4 linked regions of the Homo sapiens genome follow. The protein of the gene in region 2 interacts with the protein of the main gene of each other region in a biochemical or structural test. Each region holds a gene or a part of one and is shown on either strand. Other genes may lie near its edges.

Evidence for each region.
Region 1: of the proteins of RPS6KB1 (region 2) and MAPT, one has a biochemical effect on the other in vitro, tested with the Homo sapiens proteins (2 studies listed by BioGRID and IntAct).
Region 3: the proteins of RPS6KB1 (region 2) and PDK1 form a complex in vitro, tested with the Homo sapiens proteins (2 studies listed by BioGRID and IntAct, with this or other methods).
Region 4: of the proteins of RPS6KB1 (region 2) and RPTOR, one has a biochemical effect on the other in vitro, tested with the Homo sapiens proteins (6 studies listed by BioGRID and IntAct, with this or other methods).

What each region holds. Positions count from the first base shown.
Region 1 is NC_000017.11:45,897,554-45,904,581, reverse strand, and holds part of MAPT (microtubule-associated protein tau), read right to left. Parts: exon of another isoform or gene 5,784-7,028; intron 1-5,783. UniProt on the Homo sapiens protein: Promotes microtubule assembly and stability, and might be involved in the establishment and maintenance of neuronal polarity.
Region 2 is NC_000017.11:59,931,096-59,938,123, reverse strand, and holds part of RPS6KB1 (ribosomal protein S6 kinase beta-1), read right to left. Parts: intron 6,503-7,028; coding exon 6,402-6,502; intron 3,955-6,401; coding exon 3,864-3,954; intron 3,691-3,863; coding exon 3,600-3,690; exon of another isoform or gene 3,596-3,599; intron 2,932-3,595; coding exon 2,824-2,931; intron 1,910-2,823; coding exon 1,847-1,909; intron 1,661-1,846; coding exon 1,583-1,660; intron 547-1,582; coding exon of another isoform or gene 498-546; exon of another isoform or gene 350-497; intron 1-349. UniProt on the Homo sapiens protein: Serine/threonine-protein kinase that acts downstream of mTOR signaling in response to growth factors and nutrients to promote cell proliferation, cell growth and cell cycle progression.
Region 3 is NC_000002.12:172,559,084-172,566,111, forward strand, and holds part of PDK1 ([Pyruvate dehydrogenase (acetyl-transferring)] kinase isozyme 1, mitochondrial isoform 2 precursor), read left to right. Parts: intron 1-3,136; coding exon 3,137-3,208; intron 3,209-3,657; coding exon of another isoform or gene 3,658-3,717; intron 3,718-5,027; exon of another isoform or gene 5,028-5,047; intron 5,048-5,419; coding exon 5,420-5,604; intron 5,605-5,894; coding exon 5,895-5,990; intron 5,991-7,028. UniProt on the Homo sapiens protein: Kinase that plays a key role in regulation of glucose and fatty acid metabolism and homeostasis via phosphorylation of the pyruvate dehydrogenase subunits PDHA1 and PDHA2.
Region 4 is NC_000017.11:80,547,810-80,554,837, reverse strand, and holds part of RPTOR (regulatory-associated protein of mTOR), read right to left. Parts: intron 1-7,028. UniProt on the Homo sapiens protein: Component of the mechanistic target of rapamycin complex 1 (mTORC1), an evolutionarily conserved central nutrient sensor that stimulates anabolic reactions and macromolecule biosynthesis to promote cellular biomass generation and growth.

The sequences.
Region 1 (7,028 bases), about 14 Mb from region 2:
TAGCTAGGGCTACAGACACATGCCATCATGCCCAGCTAATTTTTACAGTTTCCTTTTGTAGAGACAGGATCTTGTTTTGTTGCCCAGGCTAGTCTCAGACTCCTGGCTTCAAGTGATCCTCCCACAGTGCTGGGATTACAAGTGTGAGCCACCGAGCCTGGCCTCATTTATATATATATATGTGTATATATATATAATATATATAAAATATATTTAATATATATAATATATATAATATATATATAATATATAATATATATTATATATGTTTTTATATATATTATATATTATACATATTATATATATAAAAATATATATAATATATAATATATAATATATATTATAATATATAATATATATAATATATATAATATATTAGATATATAATATATACAATATATTATATATATAAATATATATAATATATAACATATATAATATATACATATATAATATATAATATATAATATATATAAATATATATAATATATAAATATATAATATATAAATATATAATATATAATATATAATATATATAAATATATAATATATAAATATATAATATATAATATATATAATATATAATATATATAAATATATAATATATAATATATAATATATAATATATAATATATATTATATATAAATATATAATATATATAAATATATAATATATAAATATATATAATATATAAATATATAAATATATAATATATAATATATATAATATATAATATATAAAATATATAATATATAATATATTTATATATTATATTATATAAATATATATATTATATTTTAATATATATTATATATATAAAAAAAATATATATAAAACCAAAGAGATTCCTTTTTTTTTTTTTTTTTGAGAAGAAGTCTAGCTCTGTCGCCCAGGCTAGAGTGCAGTGGTGCGATCTCGGCTCACTGCAACCTCCACCTCCCGGGTTCACGCCATTCCCCTGCCTCAGCCTCTCGAGTAGCTGGGACTACAGGCGCCCGCCACCACGCCCGGCTAATTTTTTGTATTTTTAGTAGAGACGGGGTTTCACAAAGCCAGGATGGTCTCAATCTCCTAACCTCATGATCTGCCCGCCTCGGCCTCCCAAAGTGCTGGGATTACAGGCGTGAGCCACCGCGCCCAGACTGCCTGATGTTGCCCTGATTAATTACCCAAGAAGTCTCTTTTTGGGGGACAGGCCATGGGAGGGGGATGAGGCAAGACAATAGTTTGGTGCCACTGTTCAATTAAGAACAACTGGAAACAGGTACCACTGAAATGACCTGCAAATCAATGGCAGAACTGGATCCGATCCAGGACAACTCTGTTGACACATGATTTAGAACGCTGGCTCCAATTCAGGAGGAGGAGCTGTCCTTTACGCTGGGGGAGGAGCACCGTCCCACGGTTCCATGAATTTGTCCTTCCCAGCACTTCGTTCTTGGCATTCTGTGGCGTCTGTAGAGCACATGACAAGCAATTACAGAGCCAGGGGTCTTCTAATATCCTTGCTATCCCAGGGAGGAGGACACAAGCATGAAAGTGCATCCCTGGACTTTTTGTGGTGAAACTGCAGACTTAGATCCCAAGATAACATCACCAGCCTTCTCAGTAAAACAGAAAACTGGGCCATAGGCTGGAAGGAAAACCAGCAGCTGGGACTAGAGATAATTATGTCCCTCTTCTCTTTGATGCCTGGATTTAGCAGTAGGGTGGACGGGGCCAAAGGAGAGGAATGAATGAAACATTATTATCAATTGCTTCAGATTTAATTCTCACTTGCTGATTTAAAACTGTTTTTAGTGTTGGACATTGATCTAAGACTCTTTCCTCAGGGGAGTTAATATAGCAAAGGGAATTTAAACTTATTTTCAGTCTGTTGAGGAGGATTTTACCCTCTTAAGTTGGGATTCTATGTGAATGACTTCAAAGTGCTGTGCTAGTCCTGGCAGACAGACAGAAGATGGGCGGGGAGAATGCCCACCTTTTACTAATTTATAAGTTTCCCCAGTAGGTGTTCTTCTGATACCCTGTAAGAATAAGACATGAAGGTCTGTAAACATGCAAGGCTGGGGTCCACACAGCCTGATCTGCAGTCAGGACTGCCTCTTATCACAGCCAAGCACTTACTAAAGGTCATCTGTGCCCATTCAAAATCTTGTATGTACACCAGACTTGCTATAATAATCACATATCCTAAATAAGGTGCAAGCTGGCCGGGCGCGGTGGCTCACACCTGTAATCCCAGCACTTTGGGAGGCCGAGGTGGGTGGATCACTTGGGTCAGAAGTTCGGGACCAGCCTGGCCAACATGGCGATACCCCATCCCTACAAAAATACAAAAATCAGCCGAGCATTATGGTGTGTACCTGTAGTCCCGGCTACGGCGGAGGCTGAGGCGGAATTGCTTGAACCCAGGAGGTGGAGGTCGCAGTGAGCCAAGATCGCGCCATTGCACTTAAGCCTGGGCGATAGAGCGAGACTCCGTCTCAAAAAAAGATTAAAAAATAAGGTGCAAGCTGATGGAGTAAAAGTGCTGAGGAATAAGCTCTTCAAATCATTCAATGATTTTAAGAAAATTTAGTTGAATGTTTTGGAAAGACTTCATAAAGGTGAGTAATATTTACTATCAAATGGGATGGTAAAGACCATGAAAAAAAAAAAAAAAAGTAAAATCCCTGAAGGATTCTGCATTCAGATGACTCCACAATGTAAACCCAAAATCCAAACTGAAATCGGAGGACCCAGACAGTGCATTATTAATGTGGCATAGGCAAAACAGACAAGAAATTTCAACTGGCTGATCCAGACACCAAGAGAAGACCTGAGCCCTGTGTCAAAAGATGGGTGAACAAATTCACATTTATATAGTTTCGGTTAAAGTAAAATCTTGGAAATCTATGTGTATCATTTAAATGATTTTCTGATATAATGACTTTTTAAAACTGATATATTGTTACTTAGTCTTGATTTAAGCGATAAGAAGGCTTCTTAGGCCGAATTTATTAATTCATAAATGACTATACTTATTGGATACATGGAATTCCTAAGATTCAGTACACCACAAGTTTGCTTTATTTAATCCTTTTCTACTCTACTCTCAACCAACCACCCTGAAATCTGTTTGCCAGTTTACCAATGTCAGCACTCTGTTGAATTACTTCATTTGTAAAATCTCTTCTTTACCTCCTTCGCCTTCCCTGACTGCCATTACTTTCTCGATCAGCCCTCACTTTTTATTCAACGAGTAAACTGGAAAGATCTCTGAACCCGATGTACTAAGCCAGGTCACCCTGCCCGGGATGGCTGGCGGGAAGGCAGGTCAGTTTGGGCTGGTGGAGAGCATGCAGTTTATTCCTGGCATGGAGTGGATTTCAGGAAGAAGATGAGGCAGGGACAGCAGATGACAAATCTCCGCTTGCCTGTGGCAAGAGTTCTGTGTGTACATTTAAACATGGGTGTGTGCAATTTTCAGAGGATCCACTTCTGCCCAGTTTGGTGCAGGGGAGCTGGGTAGTTGCCGACTTTTCCTATCTTGATCCCTACTCAGTGTAACAATTTATCTGTACAACTGATTCCATCACCAGGATCTTTAGACCCCTCTGGTCATTCAGCCAATCACAAGCACTCATCCACAGGACACCGCCGATGATGCCATTTACTGAGCAGTTACTATGTGCTTGGCCCTAGTGAGTACCGGGTTAGCTTGTGTGAACCCCATGGCAACCCGTGAGACAGGTACCATCATACTCCAAGTTGTGGATGACAAAAAACTCTCCAAGCAGCTAAACAATATGGCTTAGGTCTCACAGTGAGCAGGGAGCTGGGATTTGTGCCCAGGAGGCCCGATCAGAGCCTACCTCCTTAACCATTAGGCCAAACTGCCTCCACATGCAGAACACTGCCCTGCACTGGGGACCTGGGGGAGGGTAACAGTGTCTGCCCTTGAGCTGCTCCCAAACCTTCCTTGAATAGCCTTGGCACAAAATGCATTTCTTGGGGACTCGCTGACATGGTGTTTGGATTTCTATCGGGTCCCTGATTGGGCTCAGCATGGAGCCTGATGAAATATGAAAAAAGCAAAGAAAATTAAGGGACTATACATGGAAGTTGTTCGAGTTTGTATTTTGCTGAAGCCCATTCTATCTGCATGCTTACAGAAAGTTTCCTAACTGGAGAACCCAGAAAGCTCAAAACCTGTCTCAAATTCCTCCTCACACTCAGTTGGGAGCCATCTGGGCAGGCAGGGAACCTGGCAGAGGTGGCAGGAGCATGGCACCTGGAGACAGGAAAGGAATTCTTGGACAGCAAACTCTTTGGCAAGGCAACAGGGGCGAGACAGAGGATTCTCAGGTAGCCCCAAGGTACCACAGTATAATGGAATACTTATTGCAAAGCCTGGGCCCCAGGAAGTGAGAAAAGCCTCCCAGGCCCATCTTTGCCAAAAGATTCTTACAAGAGGACTTGCCTATGCCCACCCAACTCAACCCACACCCACAATCTCAGAGCAGGCCTCATCAGTGGGCGCCAACGCTTTCACCTTGCCGAGGTACAGAACCTAAGCTGGGGATCTGATGTCCCTAAACCTCAGAGACTTGACCTTGGCCACACTGAATCTACGTCTTGATCCCCCAGTCTTGATTTCCAGCCTTCCCTGGGTCAATCAAACCAGCTGCCCCGTCATATGGCAGAGCAGTCCAGAAACCCTGGATTGGGGGAAGAGGTTTAAGGACCTTAGGAAGAGATATTTGCTCTTTGTTTTATAAACAGAGCACCAATGTAGAGTGAAATGCCTTGCTCTCTGTGTCGGGGCCAGATAAGAAATTGAGAGCTTTAACTCCACATCTCCCTAACCTTATTCTGGGTCATGCTCCGATTACAGACTCTTGTAAAAATTCATTTGTGAGACAGTGGTTTTGGAATCAATATTCTACTGGGTCAATGTTATAGATCATATCTGGGTTCCCAGACTAGTCCACAATGGCCAAGTAAACCCACATGTGGCTGAGAGGGGAGGGAACTAGTGTCAGGCAACCAGCTCCACCACCCACTGGCTCTGTGACCTTTAGCAAGTTACTAACCCTCTCTGTGCTTCAGTTTCCCCATCACGGAGATAATAACAGCACCTGCTACATAGCGGAAGTGTTGTGAGGATTAAATGAGATAATCTTAGCAAGCACTTAGAATAGGGCCTCCTAAAAGACACTCAATGAATGTAATTAAGATAGCAGTGCCAGTGTCAACCCCAGCAGTGGTGACATTGGGACTGGGTCATATTTTGATGTAGGAGACTGTCCTGTGCCTTCCTTGTAGGATGTTTAACAGCATTCCTGGCCTCTACCCACAAGATGTCAGTAGCACCCTCCCCGAGTTGTGAAAACAAAAACATCTCTCTAGACATCTCAGTGGCCCCCAGTTGAGAACCATGGTTTTACAGGAAAACAGCTGAGAGTCCCTGCTGGAACATGAGGACTCCTCTCCCTGCTGCAGCCCAGCTGGTGAGGCTGGGGTCTTCTCTTCCCGTCACCTGCTGAGGTGCCCCCCAAACGCCAGCTCCATGTCACTAGTGGAAGCACCTAACTCCTGGGCATGGCAAGTTAGGAGTGGCCAGGGGGGTGTTTCTGGGAGTGTGAGGGGGCTTTGGGGGTCTCTGAACACGGTGATGAGGAAAGTGGTGGTGGAGGAAAGAGCAGAGTCAAACGCAGTTTCCCACCTGCTTCCCACTGTATTTCCCCATTTATCCTTCATGGATAAAATCCATTTGGTATGGACCGAATACCTCTTGTATGTCTAGCACTGTATTAGGCCCCTACGGCTGTTTTTATTTGTTTTTGAGTGATTCTTTTTCAAGGAGGGAGTAAGGAAGATGCTAAATAAATACATCAATAGAAGGCAAGGTCCAGTTGGAAAATTATCACATGTCCAATTGGAAAAATAACACGTGTTCGTACATATAGCCACAGAGCTACTGAAACCACACACATAAATGCTGAGGGAAAGTGGAATAAAACAGTTTCTTTAAATTTTCAACAAATGGACTGTAACAACAGATGTTAAAAAGGCAGAAGGAAAACCACAATCTTATCCCATCTCCAGGCTGGCACCGACCTCCAAGGGCATGAGGGTCAAAGGGCACGTTTAATAGAAAGGCCACTTTTTCCAACCGGAATAAATCTAACCTTTCCTCAATCAAAGCGATTCTAAGTTTTCTAACAATTTATGGGCAGTATCCATTTCTTTTGTTCCTGTCGGAGGAGCAATGCCTGATATTAGAAACCACTTAAAAGTCACGCCCTTCCAGCAGGAACAGTCATGGACTGTCACTCATCCAAAACCCAGCAAAGCCAACAAGCCCCTTCCCCAAATCGTCCAAAGGTGAACCCAAGAGCCAAGCCAGGTTATTGCTATATAAACATCTGTTAGAGAAGCAAACTTGGCCAAGGAATGTATGAGCTTCAAGAGTCACTCCGGACCTGCGTAGCAGGGGTGGGGGCAGGGGATACACTTATCTGTTTATCCATTAATTTGTTTACGTAGAGGGAGGATTTGGAGATGCTTATACAGTAAATATAAGCAGCTTATACAGTAATTATAATACAATGCTTATACAGTAAATACAATGCTTATACAGTAAATATAAGCAGCCATCACAAAACACAAAATGACACCCCAGAATCAACCGCGGTAGGAAAGACATTTCCCTGTCTCCTGTAGGATGGGTCAGTTAAGGGGCCGAGGGGGATCAGATAGAACTCAAATTGGTCCTGCTGAGCCTGGAGCCTGAGCACGCAGAGGGGTGAGCTAGGCAGTCGCTGTCGGAGCCCCCATCATCCCTTCCAGCCTGGACCATTCTGAGACGGAGGTTTGGAGTTACAGGTGTGTGAGCGCCAGAGGGTGAGAGGGGTCACTCGCTCGGAATGTAAGAGCTCCCGCCTGCTGGGAATGGGGAGGAGTCGTCGATGGCCCCAGGATCCGTGCCCAGACATTTCCAGAGGCGCACCGGCTGGTTCAGCACCCCACCGTCATCCGC
Region 2 (7,028 bases):
TCAACTTCTGAGGTGTGATGATGGGATGGCAGTTATGTTTAAACAAGATGACCTAATCATTTTTTAAGCTGGGCAGTAGGTATATGACAGTTAACTTCCTTACAATTGTTTGTTGTTTTTTAAAGTGGGGACATTATGCTCCATGACCAAAAAATAATCACCATCATCATCCTCCTCCTTCTCCAACTACATCCTAAGGAATGGAAAAAGAAACTGTATTTTCTCAGATTCTGAGGTGGGAGAAGGACAATAACTAACACACTAACTGATTTACTCACAAACATATTGTTATGGGTTGAATCGTGTGCCTTACCCACCCCCAAAAAATTTCGTACATTGAAATTCTAACCTCTAGTTCCTCAGAATGTGACCTTATTTGGAAAGGGTTATTGCAGATGTAATTAGTGAAGATGAGGTCCTACTGGAGTAGAGAGGAACCCTAATCCAATATGCCTGGTATCCTTATAAAAAGGGGAAATTTGGCCACAGATATGCACACAGGTAGAACACCATGTGAACATGAAGGCAGAGATCCGGGTGATGCACCTACAAGCCAAAGAATGACAAAGATTACCAGCAAACCACCAGAAGCCAGGGGAGAGGCATGGAACATACAGTTTCTCACAGTAGTCAAAGAAACCAACTCTAACAATGTGATCTAGAACTTCTAGTCTCCAGATCTATGAGATAATAAATTTCTGTTGTCTAAGCCACCCGGTTTGTGGTACTTTGTTGCAGCAAGCCTAGCAAACGAATGCACACATATTCTATACTTTGAAGAAAAAATTCCCAGAGAATCATATTTAAAATGGTTAAATTAAGCAAAATAAAACAAACCAAAAAAAGGAAAGTCCCAACTACCTGAAATATTTGTCTTAGGTAACTGACTTAAAAATAGCTAATACAGTCAATTGCCACTGGGTTTAGTTCTTTACAAGATAGTACAAAAATAAAAGATGCTTGGCTGGGTGCAGAAGCTCACACCTGTAATCCCAGCACTTTGAGAGGCTGAGGTGGGTGGATCACTTGAGCCCAGGAGTTCAAGACCAGTCTGGGTGACATGGCAAAACCCTATTTCTATAAAAAATACAAAAAAATTAGCTAGGCATGGTGACACGTGTCTGTAGTCGTAGCTATTTGGGAAGCTGAGGTGGGAGAATCACCTGAGCCTGGGGAGGTCAAGGCTGCATTGAACTGTGATCGTGCTGCTGCACTCCATCCTGGGTGACAGAGTGAGACCCCATCTCAAAATAAAATAAAATAAAGATGCTGGAGAGGATAGACCAGAGATCTTTGAACTGCTAATAAAAATAATGTTTCTGTCTGCTCTGAGATTTTTCTTATTCTAAAAAAATATCAAGCGATCCTCCTGCCTCAGCCTTGCAAGTAGCTGGGACTTACAGGCACAAGCCGCCACACCCAGCTAACTTTTAAATGTTTTGTAGATATGGAGTCTTGTTATGTTGCCCATGCTGGTCTTGAACTCCTGGCCTCAAACAATCCTCCCACCTTGGCCCTTTAAAGTTTGGGGATTACAGGCGTGAGCCACTGCACCCAATTATACACTTTCATGTATACTTACCAACAGAGGTTTAAAGGGGGGCTCCACCTTTCGAGCCAGAAGTTCTTCCCAGTTAATGTGTCTAAAGAATGGATGAGCCTAGGAAAAAAAAAGCAGGAAGAAAAGTTGAGGGGACTAGACTTTGCTGGATTGATAAATTAATCACCTTTTTGAAGTTACAAGTCACAAAATAAGCTAAACTTATAAGCAACTACATATAACCCTCAGAAATACATAAAACTAGCATTATCTTCCCCACAAAACACCAAAGATGCCAATCCCTACTTGAACTTCTCCAGCGTCCCCAGGACCAGCTCCCAGACGAGAAGCAGCATTTCTTTTCAGCAGCTTTAAAGAGGAAAAAAAGCTTGGATAAAGAACCTTAGTCAAACTGATTTTTTTTTTTCCTTTTTAGACTGTGCTTGTCTACTTTGGCTTGAGAAAATATAGTTTATTGGCCAGGCACAGTGGCTCATGCCTGTAATCCCAGCACTTTGGGAGGCTGAGGCAGGTGGATCACCTGAGGTTGGGAGTTCGAGGTTGGCCAACATGGTGAAACCCCTTCTCTACTAAAAATACAAAAATTAGCCTGGCGTGGTGGTGAACACCTGTAATCCCAGCTACTAGGGAGACTGAGGCAGGAGAATCACTTGAACCTGGGAGGTGGAGGTTGCAGTGAGAGCCAAGATCATGCCATTGCACTCCAGCCTGGACGACAGAGCAAGACTCCATCTCAGAAAAAAAAGAAAAGAAAAGAAAAGAAAATATAGTTTACTAATTACTACTTAATATTGTTTAAGGGTCTGTAATCCCAGCACTTAGCACTTTGGGAGGCCAGGGCAGGTGGATCACCTGAGGTCAGGAGTTCCAGACCAGACTGACCAACACGGTGAAACCCTGTCTCTACTAAAAATACAAAAATTAGCCGGGCGTGGTGGCGGGTGCCTGTAATCCCAGCTACTTGAGAGGCTGAGGCGGAAGAATCGCTTGAACCTGGGAGACTGAGGTTGCAGTGAGCCAAGATCGCACCACTGCACTCTAGCCTGGGTGACAGGGCAAGACCCTGTCTCAAAAAAAAAAAATTTAAAAAAAGAATATGAAAAGAAAGTCTTTAAACAAATCTGTACTTCGCCTTCAAAAATTGAAGACTTTTTTGTTCAATATTTATATATGACTCTTTATTCAAAATATACATTAAATTCTATCTAGTTAAATCCTAGTCATTGAATCTTGTAGTGTCAGTGACCATTTAAGAACCTTACCTTTTTAAGCAGATCTCTGGCTTCTTGTGTGAGGTAGGGAGGCAAATTGAGTTTACATTTGAGGATTTTGTCAATTGTTTTCTTTCTATTCTCCCCAGTGAATGGGGGCTAAGAGTAGAAGACAAGTGAAAAATATTAGCAGGGAGAGAAAAATATTAGCATATAAGAAACAAATTTTGAATAATATTATCCATTTCCTAAATTAGTTATACATGGAGATCAGAAATGTATGCTGTGAAATGGGCTAACTGCTAAAGACCTTTATTTTGTTTTACAGACAGGGTCTCAACTATGTTGTCAAGGCTAGATTCTATTAATAATCCTTAGCTCAAATGATCCTCCCACCTCAGCCTCCTGAGTAGCTTAGGCTACAGGCATGCACCACTGTGGCCGGCAGACGTGCAGTTTTTAAGCAACAGGACAGAGGAAGTAGCAGTGTCCTGGAAGGAAGCCTGTGTTTCCACCATTAACTTTCTGTGTGATAAGTGAGCTATGTGATTTTATGCTTCAATTTCTCCATTTATAAAATAAGGGCATTATCTATTCAACATCTATTTCACAGGCCTGCCATGACATAGATCATTTAAAAGAAAATGTTTCGGAAAGTATGGGATCCCATATAATCATACAGCATTATTAGTGTTAAACTGCTAATAACAAATCTTTGGGCTTTGAAAACTCCACTGGTAACATGTTCAGAAAGCACAGGACAGGTCTCTTGCTATAGTGACTCAGCACAGACCAATAATACATGCAGCTTTTAACTGTGCACCTACTGCTCCAGTCAGCATGTCATACATTAATGCTCCCAAACTCCACCAATCCACAGCACGATTGTGGCCACTTCTCATCAAGATTTCAGGGGCCCTACAATGAGGAAAATAATATGCTTAAAAATTCACCCATTTGCATATCATCTGAATTAGAATTTTAAAAACAATATACAGAGTCAATGAGGGTACAGAAAACAGATACTATTCCTTAAAACAGGTAAAATTAGCTATTACCCCCAAACCAATTATGTTTAACATGTAGCTCACATGTATTCTATTGTTCCACAAAATGTGTGTGTGACTGTTCCATCATGAATAGATTCTTTGCATAGTCCAAAGTCTGTTAGTTTCACATGACCTACAATGAAAGATTACAGCATGATTATTCTCCGAATTATAAGTATGTGCAGTGTTTGAACATGTCACATAATACTTTAATCTATCCTTCCATTTAACTTTTCTTGCCTCAAATTTTCTTGCAGATGTCAAGAACAAGGTACCATCCATAAAATGGGATGCTAACTGTTTAAGGCTAGGGCAAAGTCACCTTTTGCCAATGATACAATCTATCTAGTAAAGAGAAAATAAAGATAGAGAAAAAAGTGAAATAACCTGTTTAAGGCTCTAGCTTTAAGTATATACAAAATTCTCTACCATCCTGAAAAAGAAAAATCCTGGGAAAACTGTTTTATGAAGTCTAGTTTACGTACACAGACCCCAATAAACATACTCTGTACCTTTTGAACAAAGGTGTGAGACAGTACTTCAAATATATAGCTTTTATCACAGTGAACTGTGAAGAGTCCTTAAAATGGTCTCAGAAACTCATTATAACAAGGTAGCTCATTCTGCCCAATGCTACCAATTAGGGGAAAGAAAGAAAATTGCTAGATAGTATGAATCAATCATCACTGATCCAGAAAGTAAAAAACTTACCACCTTACACAAAGATCATTTCAGTTCAAGTTTAGCTTTCTTTACTGGACTGTCATAACAAGTGGTTCAACAATCTCAGGGACTCTAGTATTTGAGGTTCATTTCACAGAAAAGGCACAATGACCTATTGATTCAAATGTAAATATATACTACACTCTGATACAGAAGAAGTATGGCCTTTATTTTCACAGAACCATCTGATACACTCAACCTTATAAATCAAAGAAGTTAACTATTCTATCGCTCCCCTATTCTATCCTGTGACTTATAATTCAGATCAGAATCCACGTTTTGGGGAGTGAGGAGGTGTTGATGAGAGGAAGGAAGAGACACTGATTCCCATGATATATTCAGTTAAGTATATCATTTCTCCTTAAAAAAAAAAAAAAGGTGGGTGGAGGAGTATAATCTGGAATGTTTATATGAGCCTCAGTTGTTCATACATCATTTTCTAAGAGTTTGAAACAATTAACTACCTCATGGATTATTCTGTAGACATCTAAGGATTAGCAGCTGCTACCACCTTCTAGATACCCTGGGTCAGCTGGTTGCTCCTTTGGGGTACGAGTGAATTGCCAAGTCTACCTACAGCCCAGATTAGCATAAATTGAGCTGTCTTTAGCAGCATGCAGTTGTAGTCAAGGCTCACTGTGCTATATCTATAGTTGTATAGATTATCAGTCTCTCTGATGTTTATGTTTGTTGTTACAAACAAACAGCAAGAATAAACTGATTCTGGCTGGGGGGAAGGTGGGTTATGCCTGTAATCCCAGCAATTTGGGAGGCCAAGGCAGGCAGATCAATTGAGCTCAGGAGTTTGAGACCACCCTGGGCAACATGATGAAACCCCATTTCTACAAAAAATACCAAAAATTAGTCAGGCGTGGTGGTGTGCCACAGTGGCCCCAGCTACTTGAGGGGCCGGGGTGGAAGGATCACTTGAGCCTGGGAGGCGGAGGTTGCAGTGAGCTGTAATCATGCCACCATACTCTAGCCTGGATGACAGAGTGAGACCCCCATCTCAAAAAAAAAAAAAAAAAAGTAACCTGATGCCTACTAAACATCATATTTCCAAAGTTTTATCAAATACTTTGGTTCAATTTCAATCCTTTTCCCAGCATTAATAAAACCTACTGTAAGAAGCATAGCTTCTAATATTCACATATTTTCTTTTTTTTTGAGACGGAGTCTCGCTCTTTTCACTCAGGCTGGAGTATAATGTCGCGATCTTGGCTCACTGCAACTTTCGCCTCCTGGGTTCAGGCGATTCTCCCACCTCAGCCTCCTGAGTAGCTGGGATTACAGGCACCCACCATCATGCCCAGCTAATTTTTTTTTTTTTTTGTATTTTTGTAGAGATGGGGTTTCACCATGTTGGCCAGGCGTCTTGAACTCCTGACCTCAGGTGATCCACCCACCTTAGCCTCCCAAAGTGCTGGGATTACAGGTGTCAGCCACTGTGCCCAGCCAATATTTACATATTTTCATTATTAAAACTCAACTTATATAATTGAGATTCACTTTTCAATTTAAGTAACAAGCCAAAATTAATGTTTAGACTGGCTTTTACAGTCTAAAACATTATACAACATTTGATGTAAAGATTCCAAAAACATGAAAAACTATAAAGAGTAAGGATTAAACTAAAAAAGGCAGTTGAGCGACTATTATCCTCAACTTCTTTTACTCTCACCAAGCGTAATTACCTAAAGACTTAAAATATCAGCAAGTACTATGATGCCATGAATTCTGAGGGAGGAAATATACAAAATAGAGAGATGAATTTGGGGCTTTGAAAATGGCCACGACCTATGTGGGAGGATTTTAAGATGATTATTTACTATAGAATTGTTTACGGTATGTCTCCACCTTGGTGATTAAGCATGATATTCTCCGGCTTCAGGTCTCTGTAGATGATCCCCTTTTGATGTAAATGCCCCAAAGCCATGGAGATTTCTGCCAAGTAAAAGCTGGAAACAAAAGTGATTTAATAAAATTAAAAAGAGTGTAATCTATCCAAAGCAGTTTACGTATGGAGCAAAATTCCTTGAAAGAAACAGACATGCACCAAAGACCAAATTAGTGGGGTAGGGGGATGTATTGGAAAAAGAGATGGCATAGGATGCTGCCAAAAGGCATGGGGACATTTATGTTTCACTCATTTTAGTGAAACTATAAAGTGCTTTATTTTGCCATTAGAATATATTGCTAAAATTGCAAAGATGTCCAGAATATGCTAAACTGCCATTGGTCATGTTTTGTTCTGTCTGTGTAGGAATTAAGCTAATAGCCATTCATTTCAAGCAAATTTCTCCCATCCACACCCAACTTTAAAATCCCATAGGAAATAGGAACTTTGTTATTCTCAGAGATCACATCTTGATTTCAAAAGGTATCTTATAACCTGACCCTTAGAAGCCCACTCATCCCTTACTTAATACAGCTACATATTTATAGACAGCTGAGGCCCACAGTATCTGCCCTCCCACCTGCCAG
Region 3 (7,028 bases), on a different chromosome or scaffold from region 2:
GATTACAGGCACGTGCCACCACGCCCAGCTAATTTTTGTATTTTTAGTAGAGACAGGGTTTCACCATGTTGGCCAGGATGATCTCGGTCTCCTGAACTCGTGATCCACCCACCTTGGCCTCCCAAAGTGCTGGGATTACAGACGTGAGCCACCGTGCCCGACCAGAGTCTTAAGGTAGTAGCAGTATTCTTTTTTTGGCTGGGGGCAGGTGGGGGCAATGTATTTGGGCTTGTGCCCTGAATCGTGGACTCCACAACTTCTTGATTTTGAGAAAGCCAGTCAAAACTGCACTGAAATACAGATGCTAAATTTAGGATTTATGTTAGTATATCTTCAAGGATATTATAAGAAAAAATGTCTGCAATTTGTTGATGACTGGGTATTTATGTATATTGCCTTTAATCCCTTCAACAACCTTGCACAGTGGGTATGATTCTCTCCATTTTATTCATTGTTATTATTTTTATTTACTTTTTGTTTTTGAAATGGAATCTTGCTCTGTTGCCCAGGCTGGAGTGCAATGGCATGATCTTGGCTCACTGCAACCTCTGCCTCCTGGGTTCAAGTGATTCTCCTGCCTCAGCCTCCAGAGTAGCTGGGATTACAGGCACCTGCCACCATGCCTGGCTAATTTTTGTATTTTTAGTAGAAATAGAGGTTTCACCATGTTGGCCAGGCTGGTCTCAAGCTCCTGACCTCAGGTGATCCTCCCACCTTGGCTTCCCAAAGTGCTGGGATTACAGGCATGAGCCACCACTCCTGGCCTACTTATTTTTTTGAGACAGGTTCTTACTCTGTCACCCAGGTTGGAGTGCAGTGGTGATCACAGCTCAGCTCACTGCAACCTCCACCTCCCTGGCTCAGGTGATCCTCCCACCTCGGCCTCCTGAGTAGCTGGGACCACAAGTGCATGCCACACCCAGCTAATTTTTGTATTTTTTAGCAGAGATGGGGTTTTTCCATGTTGCCTACGCTGGCCTCAAACTCCGGAGGTCAAGGTATTTGCCCACCTGGGCCTCTCAAAGTGCAGGGATTATGGGCATGAGCCATTGTGTCTAGCCTGTTTATTATTTTTTAAATTAATTTATTTTCTTTTTAGAGACAGGGTCTCCATCACCCAGGCTAGAGTGCAGTAGTGTGATCATGGCTCACTGCAGTCTTGACCTCCTGGGGTCAAGAGATTCTCCTGCTAAGGCAGCTGCCTCCCGAGCAGCTGGGACCACAGCCATGCGCCACCATACCTGACCAATTCTTTTATTTTTTTGTAGAGATGGGGGTCTCACTTTTTTGCCCAGGCAGGTTGTGAACTCCTGGGCTCAAGCAGTCCTCTCACCTTGGCTTCACAAAGTGTTGGTATTACAGACATGAGCCACCGCACCTGGCAGGTTAACTCTGTACAGATGAGGATGCTGAGGCACATAAAGGTTAAATCTTTTGCGTAAGACAGTACCATTGATAGTGGAGTTGGGATTCAAACCCCCATTTGTCCATCTCTGCTATACCGTGCTATAGTCAGAATGATGAAATATATGAAAGGATATATGTATTTTTAATAAACTGTGTTTATTGAAGGGTATCTTTTTATAAATTACAAAAGTTAAAATGTTTATTTTTCTGTTTTAAAACAATTAGAAGTTTTTGGAATTGTGTAGAAAAAGTGTGATCTCTTCCCAAAGATAAGTAGAGATGTTAAGGGTATACACTCATGGAGCCACCTATATACAGCCTTCATTAATGTTACTGATTTAAAAGTGTTGTTCTTTTAAGCACTGTATGCTTCAAACAAATGAGTTGCCCAGAGTTAAGTCTTAAATGGAAAAGGTTTAGCTGCAGGGCATTTCCCAGTTATGATTCATGGAGATTCAAGTTTTCTTTTTGTAAGCATTATAGCGTATGGGAGAAGTTGATCTAATCGCAATTTAAAAAAGCAAAATATGACTGCTATATATATGATAATCAGATGCTATCTAGTCCAAGTATGGAATAGTTATAAGTGTGGATTAAATGGGAAGCATTTGTTTAGTAATTATGATGGGATATAATGGAGAAAATATAATATTCCATGGAAGATTTTTCCTGTTTTTAAAAAATTCTTCATTAGAAGTAGAATATGCTGCTTTTTGAAGCTTATCAGTCATGAGGTCTGATCGGTGCCTGTTGTAGGTACTCAAATATCTCTTGGATGGAGAGCGTAGTTGTTCTTGCCAATTAAGAGGAAATTAAGGGTTAAAGCAAAGCAGCAGCTGCTATCAGAATCCCTTAACTTTGGAATGCAGTAAGACATATTGCTTGTCAGAAACAGCTTTCCAAACCAACAGATGGAATTACAGGTTTTTAAAGCACTTCCATTGCTCCTAGATGCCTGCTAAGTTAGGACAGTTGCAGATAAAGTGCTTACAGCCAAGTGGAGCAGATCCCTTACACTGTCGAAGAAAGTAATTCAGTGGTAGCAAGTTATTTTTAGCTCTGGCCCCGCAGTGCCATTGTACTTGCCTGCAAGACCATCAGAAAATCATTTGGCCTTCTCTATTTTGCTCATTCCTTAACAGATGCTTTGATACTTCGAATTGTTAGATAAATTTAAAATGTACATTTTTATGACTTTTGTGTTTTTTGTTCAGTTTAAAAGAACCATGTAGATTATAGGCTTTCAATAAATACTTGTTAGTTGGACATAAATATGTAAAATTAAGGTTTTAAAGCACAGATATTTAAGATACAGTCTTAGAGCAAGAGAGGCTGTCCTCCTTTTACTGATAATAAGACAAATTAAGTCATTTGCCCAAGATCACATAGTTACTGGTGACAGATCTCAGCATAATCAGTATATATACTGTAATGTACAGTGGTAAATTAAAAAAAAATTAAAAGCCATTTTAGAATGTAGAACTCGGAAAATCTTAAAATTCTTAAATTTGACCTTTGCTTTTAGGAGAAAATGTGCACCTTCTACCATTCATTCCCAGCACTTTGCTTGAATGTGCATGGGTGTAAAAATTATACTTCAACCATAATTTATAGCAGTATTCTAAATTAAAAATTATAAAATGCTAAAAATAGCTTTTGAGCTAATTTTCATGATATTGAACTTTCAGAATATAAAAGAACAAACTTATCCTATTGATCTGCATTTTAGGTATATCCAGAGTCTTCAGGAGCTTCTTGATTTTAAGGACAAAAGTGCTGAGGATGCTAAAGCTATTTATGAGTAAGTTCACTATTTTGACCCTATTCTTAAACCTATTATTAGGTCACTTGGGGGAAATTGGTTAACTTTTAGGTTTCTACTACTTTAGAACATGTGATATATGTGACTGTAGCAGCCCATACAGGCAGGACAAATAACAATCAGCAAATTTGACTAGGCATAAGAAATGCTTCGTGTTCCTCTTTAACAAAAGACAAAGTTCAGGTGTGATGATCAGTGGAAATGTAGGTGTGGCCTCAGTGCCAGTTGGACTGTTCACCTGGAGGGTGCATGCTCCTTCTAATGGACAACCACCTTCAGCCCCAGCTGATCTTTGCCATATGAAAATACTGCCCATATCATCTGATTGTTTTCTGATTTTAAAGGAAAGCTACAAGTCTAGATTTGTAATGTAAAATCTCTCACTTTTGAAAGATTGGTAACTAATTAAAACATTTTTTAAAACACAGAAGGCCTAGAAGAACATGGTTGCAGGTCTCTAGTTTATGCTGTATGGCCTGCAAGATGATGTAAGTAATATGACAATGTTAATAACCCATATACCAGAATTGGTAAACCAAAGTATTTGCCTTATGCAGCTACCTGCTTATTGCAGTGAAGGGTACTGAGAGTGTAATGACCATCTCTTGTCCTCAGTTAGTTACACATGTTTTTTGGACTGTCTTTAAAGTGAACAGTAACACTTCATTTTTTTAAACATGATTTTAATCTGAAAATAACTTCAGCAAGAGTTTACTCCTTGCTTAGGTATTGAGCAGACTTTACATGAATGATGTTTTTTAATCTTTAAAACAATTCATTGAAATAATGCTGTTTGTGCACAAAGAGGGTAAGTAGTTTAAGGTTACATAGTTAGCAAATGGTAGAATCCAAGCAGTCTTACTTTAAAAGTAAACATTATGTTATAGAGCCTTCTGAAAACAGTCATTCAGAGCTGTGGAAAATAAGTAGTCAAGCAGAATAATACAGATTTGTGTTTCTTTGAAGCAGAAAGAAAATAATAAAGGAGTGACTAGAATGATGAGTTGTTTGTTGTTTTTGAAGAGTTTTGTTGTTTGTATTTTAGTTTAACAGTCTTGTTTTGAAGCGCATTACTAACTAGGAATTCCAAAAATGTTTTAAGCAGTGGAAACATCATTGGAATAAGTTAATAGTACTCAGGATGATGACTTTGAATAGGAAAGCACTCATTTGGAAGTGTAAATTCAGATGGGTTATGTTAGAAAATTGGTTTCGTTACTGCATAATTAAGACTTCTTGGGCCGGGCACGGTGGCTCACGCCTGTAATCCCAGCACTTTGGGAGGCCGAGGCGGGCGGATCGTCTGAGGTCGGGAGTTCGAGACCAGCCTGACCAACATGGAGAAACCCTGTCTCTACTAAAAATACAAAATTAGCCAGGCATCATGGTACATGCCTATAATCCCGGCTACTCAGGAAGGCTGAGGCAGTAGAATCACTTGAACTCGGGAGGTGGAGGTTGCAGTGAGCCGAGATTGCGCCATTGCTCTCCAGCCTGGGCAACAAGAGCAAAATTCCATCTCAAAAAAAAAAAAGACTTATTTTCTCTTTTATTTAGTTATTTAACCATGCAGTGTCTTCTAAGTGACAGAGATGGGAAGACTAGATGATTTGAAGATTTGTCTTTTAATATAATTGTTTACTTTTCCTCTCCCATTTTATAAACTCATAGGATGAGTGAAATGAGAATTCTTTTCTGTTTTTCTGTCCTAAGTGTTTCCTTCTCTCTTTGAACCCTAGGGAATAGGTCCAAAACAGGCAGGCTTTATTGGCTCATTCATCTTGATTCCTTGCAGAGCAGAGCAGGTGTTCTCTAGAGGCAAGTGCTTTGTCTCCTCCTATGCAGAATGTCTCTGGAATACCATCCTCTTAGCCAGTGCTCAGATGACCTTAGTTGATAACAGTTAAAACCATTAACATTTTTTGGATTACGTTTTGTGGCAGCCTTACTCTTAGGAAGCCAAGAAAAGAATTAAATCTTGAAAGTTTTATTTTGGAGGTCTGTATACTTTCATAGATTTGGTATATTTTATGATCTGAAATACATTTAAATAAGTATAGGAAAACATGAACCGATTTTCCTTTTATTAAATTGGGGATTTTTTGTCTAGCATAGTTGGTTAAGCTTATATTTTTGTATTAAGTTTACTTGTCAAAATATTTGGCTGTTTTGACAGATGGGTTTGTTTAGCTTTACAGATACTGTGATACGGATCAGAAACCGACACAATGATGTCATTCCCACAATGGCCCAGGGTGTGATTGAATACAAGGAGAGCTTTGGGGTGGATCCTGTCACCAGCCAGAATGTTCAGTACTTTTTGGATCGATTCTACATGAGTCGCATTTCAATTAGAATGTTACTCAATCAGCACTGTAAGTGTCCCTCATGAGTCAAGAGAAGAAGCTAAATGAGATGTGTTGGCATATTTTAAATTTATTTAGGAAAGTTCCATTTAGGTAGGAAATTTAGTTTTACCTTTTGGCTAATTAAGAAAAATAAATAGACTGCCATCAAGAAAGGTGTTTTTATTGAATGTAAAATACTATGTTTATCCTAAAGGAAAATATTTGTTCTGTTTGGTACAATTTAAACAGTATTCAGATTTGGAAAAGAGCATTAGGTGGTTTAGCTTATTTTGTTGGTTTTTTTCCTTTTTGGATAGCTTTATTGTTTGGTGGAAAAGGCAAAGGAAGTCCATCTCATCGAAAACACATTGGAAGCATAAATCCAAACTGCAATGTACTTGAAGTTATTAAAGGTAAATACTGACATTTCTCCTTGCAAAAAAAGATACAAAAATCAAAATTATTGTTATTTCTTACTATTAAAACATCTATTTGTATCATGAGATAAAATGGTAGGCACAAATGCATGGGTTTGAAAATAACCTTATAGTATTATTTGTGCATTATGTATAGGATGACTATTTTATTGATAGAATTATTTGTTAGGCAAAGTTTGGTGATACTATAGAGGATATCTTTTTTGTTTTGTTTTGTTTTGTTTGAGACAGAGTCTCACTCTGTTGCCCAGGCTGGAGTGCAGTGGTGTGATCTCAGCTCACTGCAGCCTCTGCCTCCTGAGTTCAAGCGATTGTCTTGCCTCAGCCTCCCCAGTAGCCGGGATTACAGATGCTCAACACTACGCCTGGCTAATTTTTGTATCTTTAGTGCAGGCAGGGTTTTACCATGTTGGCCAGGCTGGTCTGGAACTCCTGCCTGCCTGCCTGCCTGCCTCGGCCTCCCAAAGAGCTGGGATTACAGGCGTGAGCCACCGAGCCCAGCTGAGGGTATCTTTCACTTAAAAAAGAATTGAAGTCCCTACTGCCCTGTTTCTAATTCTTACACTATGAGCAGTAATTCATAACAATTTGGTTTGAATCATTTCACACTTTTTTCTATTTATACCACTTGTACACATACACAATTGATGTTGGTCTTACATTGTTGTTTTTAGAAAATGGGGTGCTCTATGTTTTTTTCTACAAGTTTACAGACATCTTGCTGTTCAGTACATCTGGATATGCTCCAAGGTTTTGAATGGCTCTATGGAATGTATCAGTATGTGTTAATTAATTCTCCTGTTCATGCACACTTAGGTTGTTTTAATTTTTTTCTGTTACCACCAATACCAGCAGTACTGCTGTGAACATCCTTAAATACACGCTCACTTTTGCTAGTATTTTAGAGGTGAGATTCCTAGAATTAAAAACATTTAAATGCATATAAAATTTTGGTATCTCCAAAAAGGTTTCAAACAATGGATAAGAGTGTTTCCTAACCAACTCTTAAGTTTT
Region 4 (7,028 bases), about 21 Mb from region 2:
AAATCTCTTTAATATCCAGCTTCATAGAAGACAACTGGATTCTCATTTTTTTTGTTGTTGTTGTTGTTTGTTTTGTTTTGTTTTGTTTTGTTTTGAGACAGAGTCTCACTCTGTCACCCAGGCTGGAGTGCAGTGGCGCAATCTCAGCTCACTGCAAGCTCTGCCTCCCGGGTTCACGCCATTCTCCTGCCTCAGCCTCCCAAGTAGCTGGGACTACAGGCGCCCGTCACCTCGCCCGGCTAATTTTTGGTATTTTTTAGTAGAGATGGGGTTTCATCGTGTTAGCCAGGATGGTCTTGATCTCCTGACCTCATGATCTGCCCGCCTCAGTCTCCCAAAGTGCTGGGATTACAGGTGTGAGCCACCGCACCCCACCTTGGATTCTCATTTTTGGTGCCACATTCAATGGGTTGAAATACACTGTTTTGGTTGAAGTATGTGAGAAAAATCTGGCCTCACAAAGATACATAATGGCAGGAGTATCAGAATATCCAAATAATTGAGAATATTATTATTTGATATTACAACAAAATTGAGTAAGTGGTAGTTTCTTAAAGATCTGTTGCAATCTATTTGAATAAAATATTTAAACTCTCACTATAGGCAACATAGTGAGACCCCATCCCTACAAAAAATCCAAAAAAAAAATCTAGGCATGGTGACTCACACCTGTAGTCCCAGCGACTCAGGAGGCTGAGGCAGGAGGATCACTTGAGCCCAGGTCAAGGATGCAGTGAACTGTGAAACAAACAAATAACAACAAAAAATATACACACACGCACACAACAGAACATCAAGCGGGGTGTGGTGGCTGACCCCTGTAATCCCAGCACTTTAGGAGGCCAAGGCAGGTGGATCACCTGAAGTCAGGAGTTCGAGACCAGCCTGGCCAATATGGCAAAACCCCATCTCTACTAAAAATATGAAAATTAGCCAGGCGTGGTAGCAGGCACATGTAATCCCAACTACTCAGGAGGCTGAGGCAGGAGAATTGCTTGAACCTGGGAGGCGGAGGTTGCAGTGAGCCGAGATCGCGCCACTGCACTCCAACCTGGGCAACAGAGCAAGATTCCGTCTTAAAAAAAAAGAAAAAAAAACACCTATCCTCTGGTGAACTTTTTGTACCCTATTACATTAAAATCCACTGGTCTAACATTGAACGGATCTTTTACCTATGGATGATTTTATAATATCATGGATTGGTCATCTGGAAATATTTGTTCACTGAATTATGCAGCTGTTCCAAATGTGGGCACATTTCATTCTACAACATTAATTCCATTCATTAATATCACTATGGATCTCACCAGAAACATCTTTAAGTCTTGGGAAGCTGCCAGGCTCACAGCGGCAGATACAAGTTTTCCAAAACCAATTTTCACTTGAAGGTTCAAATTTCATGACTGGCAGCAAATACTGTCAGCTGTATTCCTTGAAGTGACAGCTCACTAAGTTCATTTTCAAAAACACGTCTGCCGTGGACACAGGCCTCAACATCCAGAGGCGGCCTGTCGGTGATTCCTTTGGGACGTGCTGCGTCCATGAAGGCAGCAGATGCTCCTCCTCCAGGCAGCCACTGGGCTTTGCCTGCAGGAGAAGGAGCAGCACACACAGTCTGAAAAAGATGTGTGCTTAACAGTCAAGATTTAGTAAAAGTCATCATTTTCACTGCTTTATTAGCAAGGACATTCTCTCCATGTGCATGGCAAAGAAATCAGGAACTAGTAGTACAGCTTGGCACCGCTGTCTTGATTCATCACTTTTGCACTGTCAGTGCAGGTATCAACAGAGTGGAAAAGGCCAATGGTGTTCCATTATTATGAAAACAGTTTTGACCTTGTGGATCCCTGCAAGGGTCTAGGAGAAGCCCCAGTGCACAGGGCACATGCTGTGAGCAGACTGAGCATCCTTCTCTGTCTGCTGAATGTTGGTCTGCTGGTCTGCTATTTTCAACCCCCTGACCTCTTAACATAAATGTTTCAGTGGAGACATTATGATACAGTTTTGTTTTGTTTTGTTTTGAACTAAACTTTGTTTCTCCCTCTGCACAGGTTCCACTTCCTCTCACTGCTAGCCATGTTACTTATGTAACTTTAGGTAAGCCATTCAACTAAAACGTCAGTTACCTCATCAGTAACACGGAGAGAATGATCCCTAGGTAATTTATGGTGCTGTTGAGCCTTAAAGATAATGTATGTGGAAGCCTTTTGTAAACTATCCATTTTGTATCAGTATAGTTTTGTTGAATCCCTACTATGTGCCAAGCACTGCCCTATGGACTAGCATAGACTAGACTAGGTCCTTGCTTTATGATGAAAAGCTCACATCTCCAGGAGGAAGTAGGGAGAAAAATATCAGAGAAATAAATAGCCATCAGGAGGGTTTATGAGTGACAGGGTGGCTGCTTCAGATGGGGTGATGGTGGGCCTCTCTGAGGAAGGGACCTAGATGCTAAGTATGAACGACGAGAAGGGGCCAGGTGTGCAAAGATCAGAGAGAAAAGCATTCCAGGAGTTTCTATCCAAGAAGCAGAAAAGGCAGGCAGAGGCCAAATCATGAAGGCTTTGTGAACCAGCAAGAGGAGTCTGAGTTCTACTTTAAGCACAGAGGAAGCCAATGGAGACCACCAGTAAGGAAGTAACAGAATCTGATTCACACTTTTGTGGGGAAAAGCAAGAGAGATCAGATTGTTACTGTGTCTGTATAGAAAGAAGTAGACATAGGAGACTCCATTTTATTCTGTACTAAGACAAATTCTTCTGCCTTGAGATTCTGTTAATCTATGACCTTACCCCCAACCCCGTGCTCTCTGAAACATGTGCTGTGTCAAACTCAGGGTTAAATGGATTAAGGGCGGTGCAAGATGTGCTTTGTTAAACAGATGCTTGAAGGCAGCATGCTCCTTAAGAGTCATCATCACTCCCTAATCTCAAGTACCCAGGGACACAAACACTGCGGAAGGCCACAGGGACCTCTGCCTAGGAAAGCCAGGTATTGTCCAAGGTTTCTCCCCATGTGATAGTCTGAAATATGGCCTCGTGGGAAGGGAAAGACCTGACCGTCCCCCAGCCCGACACCCGTAAAGGGTCTGTGCTGAGGAGGATTAGTAGAAGAGGAAGGCATGCCTCTTGCAGTTGAGACAAGAGGAAGGCATCTGTCTCCTGCCCGTCCCTGGGCAATGGAATGTCTCGGTATAAAACCCGATTGTACGTTCCATCTACTGAGATAGGGAAAAACTGCCTTAGGGCTGGAGGTGGGACATGCGGGCAGCAATACTGCTTTGTAAAGCATTGAGATATTTATGTGTATGCATATCTAAAAGCACAGCACTTAATCCTTTACCTTGTCTATGATGCAAAGACCCTTGTTCACGTGTTTGTCTGCTGACCCTCTCCCCACTATTGTCTTGTGACCCTGACACATCCCCCTCTCGGAGAAACACCCACGAATGATCAATAAATACTAAGGGAACTCTGAGGCTGGCGGGATCCTCCATATGCTGAACGCTGGTTCCCTGGGTCCCCTTATTTCTCTCTCTATACTTTGTCTCTGTTTCTTTTTCTTTTCCAAGTCTCTCGTCCCACCTAACAAGAAACACCCACAGGTGTGGAGGGGCAACCCACCCCTTCACACTTTCAAAAAATCCCTCTGGCCAGGTGTGATGGCTCACGCCTGTAATCCAGCACTCTGGGAGGCTGAGGTGGGAGGATCACTTGAGCTCAGGAGTTCAAGACCAGCCTGGCCAACATGGTGAAACCGCATCTCTACTAAAAATACAAAAAATCAGCCGGGCATGGTGTCATGCACTGGTAGTCCCAGCTACTCGGGAGACTGAGGCACGAGAATCTCTTGAACTCGGGAGGTGGAGGTTGCAGTGAGCCGAGATCACGCCATTGCACTCCAGCCTGAGAAACAAGGAGAGACTCCATTTCAAAATAAATAAAAGATCCCTCTGACTGCTATGTGAAAAACTGGTTGTAGGGCAAGAATGGACATAGGGAGACCAGTCAGGACACAAATGCAGTGTCCAGACAAGAGACGGTGGCTGCCTGGACTGGGGCTGCATCAGTGGAGACAAAATGAAGCAGGCCAATGTAAGACATGCTTTGGAAGTAACGCTGATGGGTTCTAATGAATTGGATGGGGCGATAAAGAGAGGGAGAGGAAAGAATTAAGGATAAACTCTAAACTTACAGCTTGAACAACTGAGTGGATGGTGGTTGTGGCAAGCGGTGATGGAGAAAACTAAGAAAAAGCAGGCAGTAGGCATCTGAGACAGAAATTTCAGGCCAGATCAGAACTAAAGATTGGGGGTTTAAGCATCACTGGCATGTAGACACTATTTAAAATCATGGGCCCCGATGAGATCTGCTAGGGAGGGGCACACCCAGAACAGAGAATGGGGTCCAAGATCAATTCCTGGGGTGCCCCTGCATTTAGGTGTCAGGTAGCAAAGGAGTCTGAGAAGGAACAACTAGTGACCTAAGAGGAAAATCCGAGTTTCGTGGAGACACAGAAGCAAGTGAGGAAAGAGCTTTATGAAGAGGCCATGGTCCACATTGTGGAATGCTGCTGAGAGGTGAAATAAGAACAGAGAAGGACAGAGAAGAGAACTTTAGATTTAGCAACAAACTGGGGCCATATGGAGACCAGTCTCAGGGGAGTGGAACAGGGCACAGTTGGAATGTGGAGAGGACGCAAGGTGAGGAAAGCAGAGGGGGTAGTGTAGATTATGAAGGATTGCTATTACCCTTGCTGAAAAGACCGCATAAACCTTTGGCAGTCCATGTATTAGTTGAACAGATCTACTCTGCTTCCTCCATGACCTGGGCAAAGTATGGCTACAGAGCAATGCAACTGAGTCTAGAGAATGGTTTACAAAATAGCCTTCTTCATCTAACCGTTTCATCCCCTACACATGTAGACATAGGATGCCTGTCAGTGGTCCTACACATGCATGGAAATAGTGTCTGACAATGACACCACACATGTGTACACAGAATGTGTCTGCCAGGGGTGCTACATGCATGTAGACAGAGTGTCTGTCAGTCTACATGTGTGTAGACATAGCATGTCTGTCAACACTTTCAGAGCAATAGCTCTCAAGCACCCGTCATTCCATCCCACATATTCCAGGCAAAAGAGTCATCTGAGACCAGTTATCCCCACTGTCCACTTTCCAGTAGGAAAATGAACTCTGTGATAACTATAAAGTATCACAGTTAGACCAGGCACGGTGGCTCACACCTGTAATCCCAGCACTTTGGGAGGCCGAGGCAGGTGGATCACCTGAGGTCAGGAGTTTGAGACCAGCCTGGCCAACATAGTGAAACCCCGTCTCTAATAAAAATATGAAAAAAATTGGCCAGGCATGGTGGTGGGCACCTGTAATCCCAGCTACTCGGGAGGCTGCGGCAGGAGAATCGCTTGAACCCAAGAGGCGGAGGTTGCAGTGAGCCAAAAACACAAATAGGGGAGATATATACGTATCTGTTTTAGCCAAAGGTCTGTGAATGATTCATTTTGAACTACAATTCATATATGTCTAGTTATTTGAAAATTGCAAGCTAAAAACACTATGGATACATATATGCCTCATTCACTATACATAGTAGAATTAACCAAACAACAAACTAACTTGATAATAATTTTAAAGTAACAGTAACTTAGAAATTAAAATGTGGTAAAAGTGGCATTTGAAAACCAAGACTGATTCAAAACAAAGATGGCAGGAATCCCAACTGAGAGCGGGCAAGGGCTGTAGCTCTGGAAGGATGCCAAGTGTTGGGTGGCAAAAAAAACTTCTTGGGAGTCATCAGTCAGTCAACTTTGGTAAAGATGTCAATTTGAGGAATCTGTAGCAAGGCTACTAAATAGGAGCCAGTAAGAACTAATGAATATATGTACAAAATAAAAGCGTATGGAATTGCACATTAACCACAAGAAGAAGCAAAATCTCAGCTTGCATTTAGGACAGTCAGTGGCCACCAGGAAGTAGTTGATGTAGCTCCTAGCACAGAACAACCACGCCCACACATTTCACTTTACAAACATGCTGCTCCACCAGACTGGAGGCTACGTCCAGCACAGTGGGACTGTGTGGCCTGGAGGCCTGGGTAACAGAGATTCTTACGTAGGTAACCCACTGGTCAAAAAACACCCCAGGGCCAGGTGCTGTGGCTCACACCTGTAATCCCAGCACTTTGGGAGGCTGAGGCAGGTGAACGACCCGAGGTCAGGAGTTCAGGACCAGCCTGGCCAACATGGTGAAACCCCATCTCCACTAAAAATACAAAAAAAACTAGCCAGGCGCCTGTAATCCCAGCTACTTGGGAGGCTGAGGCAGGAGAATAGCTTGATCCTGGGAGGCGGAGGTTGCAGTGAGTCAAGACCACACCACTGCACTCCAGCCTGGGCAACAAGAATGAAACTCCATCTCAAAAAAAAAAAAAAAAAAAAAAAAAAACCACCCCAGGCTGAGCGTGTTGGCTGATGCCTGTAATCCTAGCATTTTTGGAGGACAAGGCAGGAGGATTGCTTGATCCCAGGAGTTCAAGACCAGCCTGGGCAACACAGTGAGACTCCCCAACCCCAGACACACTGGCGCACACTTATAGTCTCAGCTACTGGGGAGGCTGAGGTGAGAGGATCACTCAGGCCCAGGAGGTCGAGGCTGCAGTGAGCCGTGTGATCTCACCACTGTACTCCAGCCTGGATGACAGAGCAAGACCCTGTCTCAAAAAAAAAAAAAAAAAAAAAGAAACAGAAAAACACTCCACAAATGGGGTTGTTCAGCCTGCAGTGTTGGACTACAGTGTGTTTGGTAATAAATCTGAATTAGTATGAATATTTACAATAAAAGAAAAAAAAAGTTTGCTGACTTCTCAAAGACAAAGAGAGAGGCCTGGCCATAGCCCAGTTGCCCCTTCAGTTATGGCATCAGGGAGCCCCTGTTCCCACCCTCCAGAAACTGTCACACACACTGTGCCAAATGTCAGCTGCCATTTGTCTTTATCTTTGAACCTATG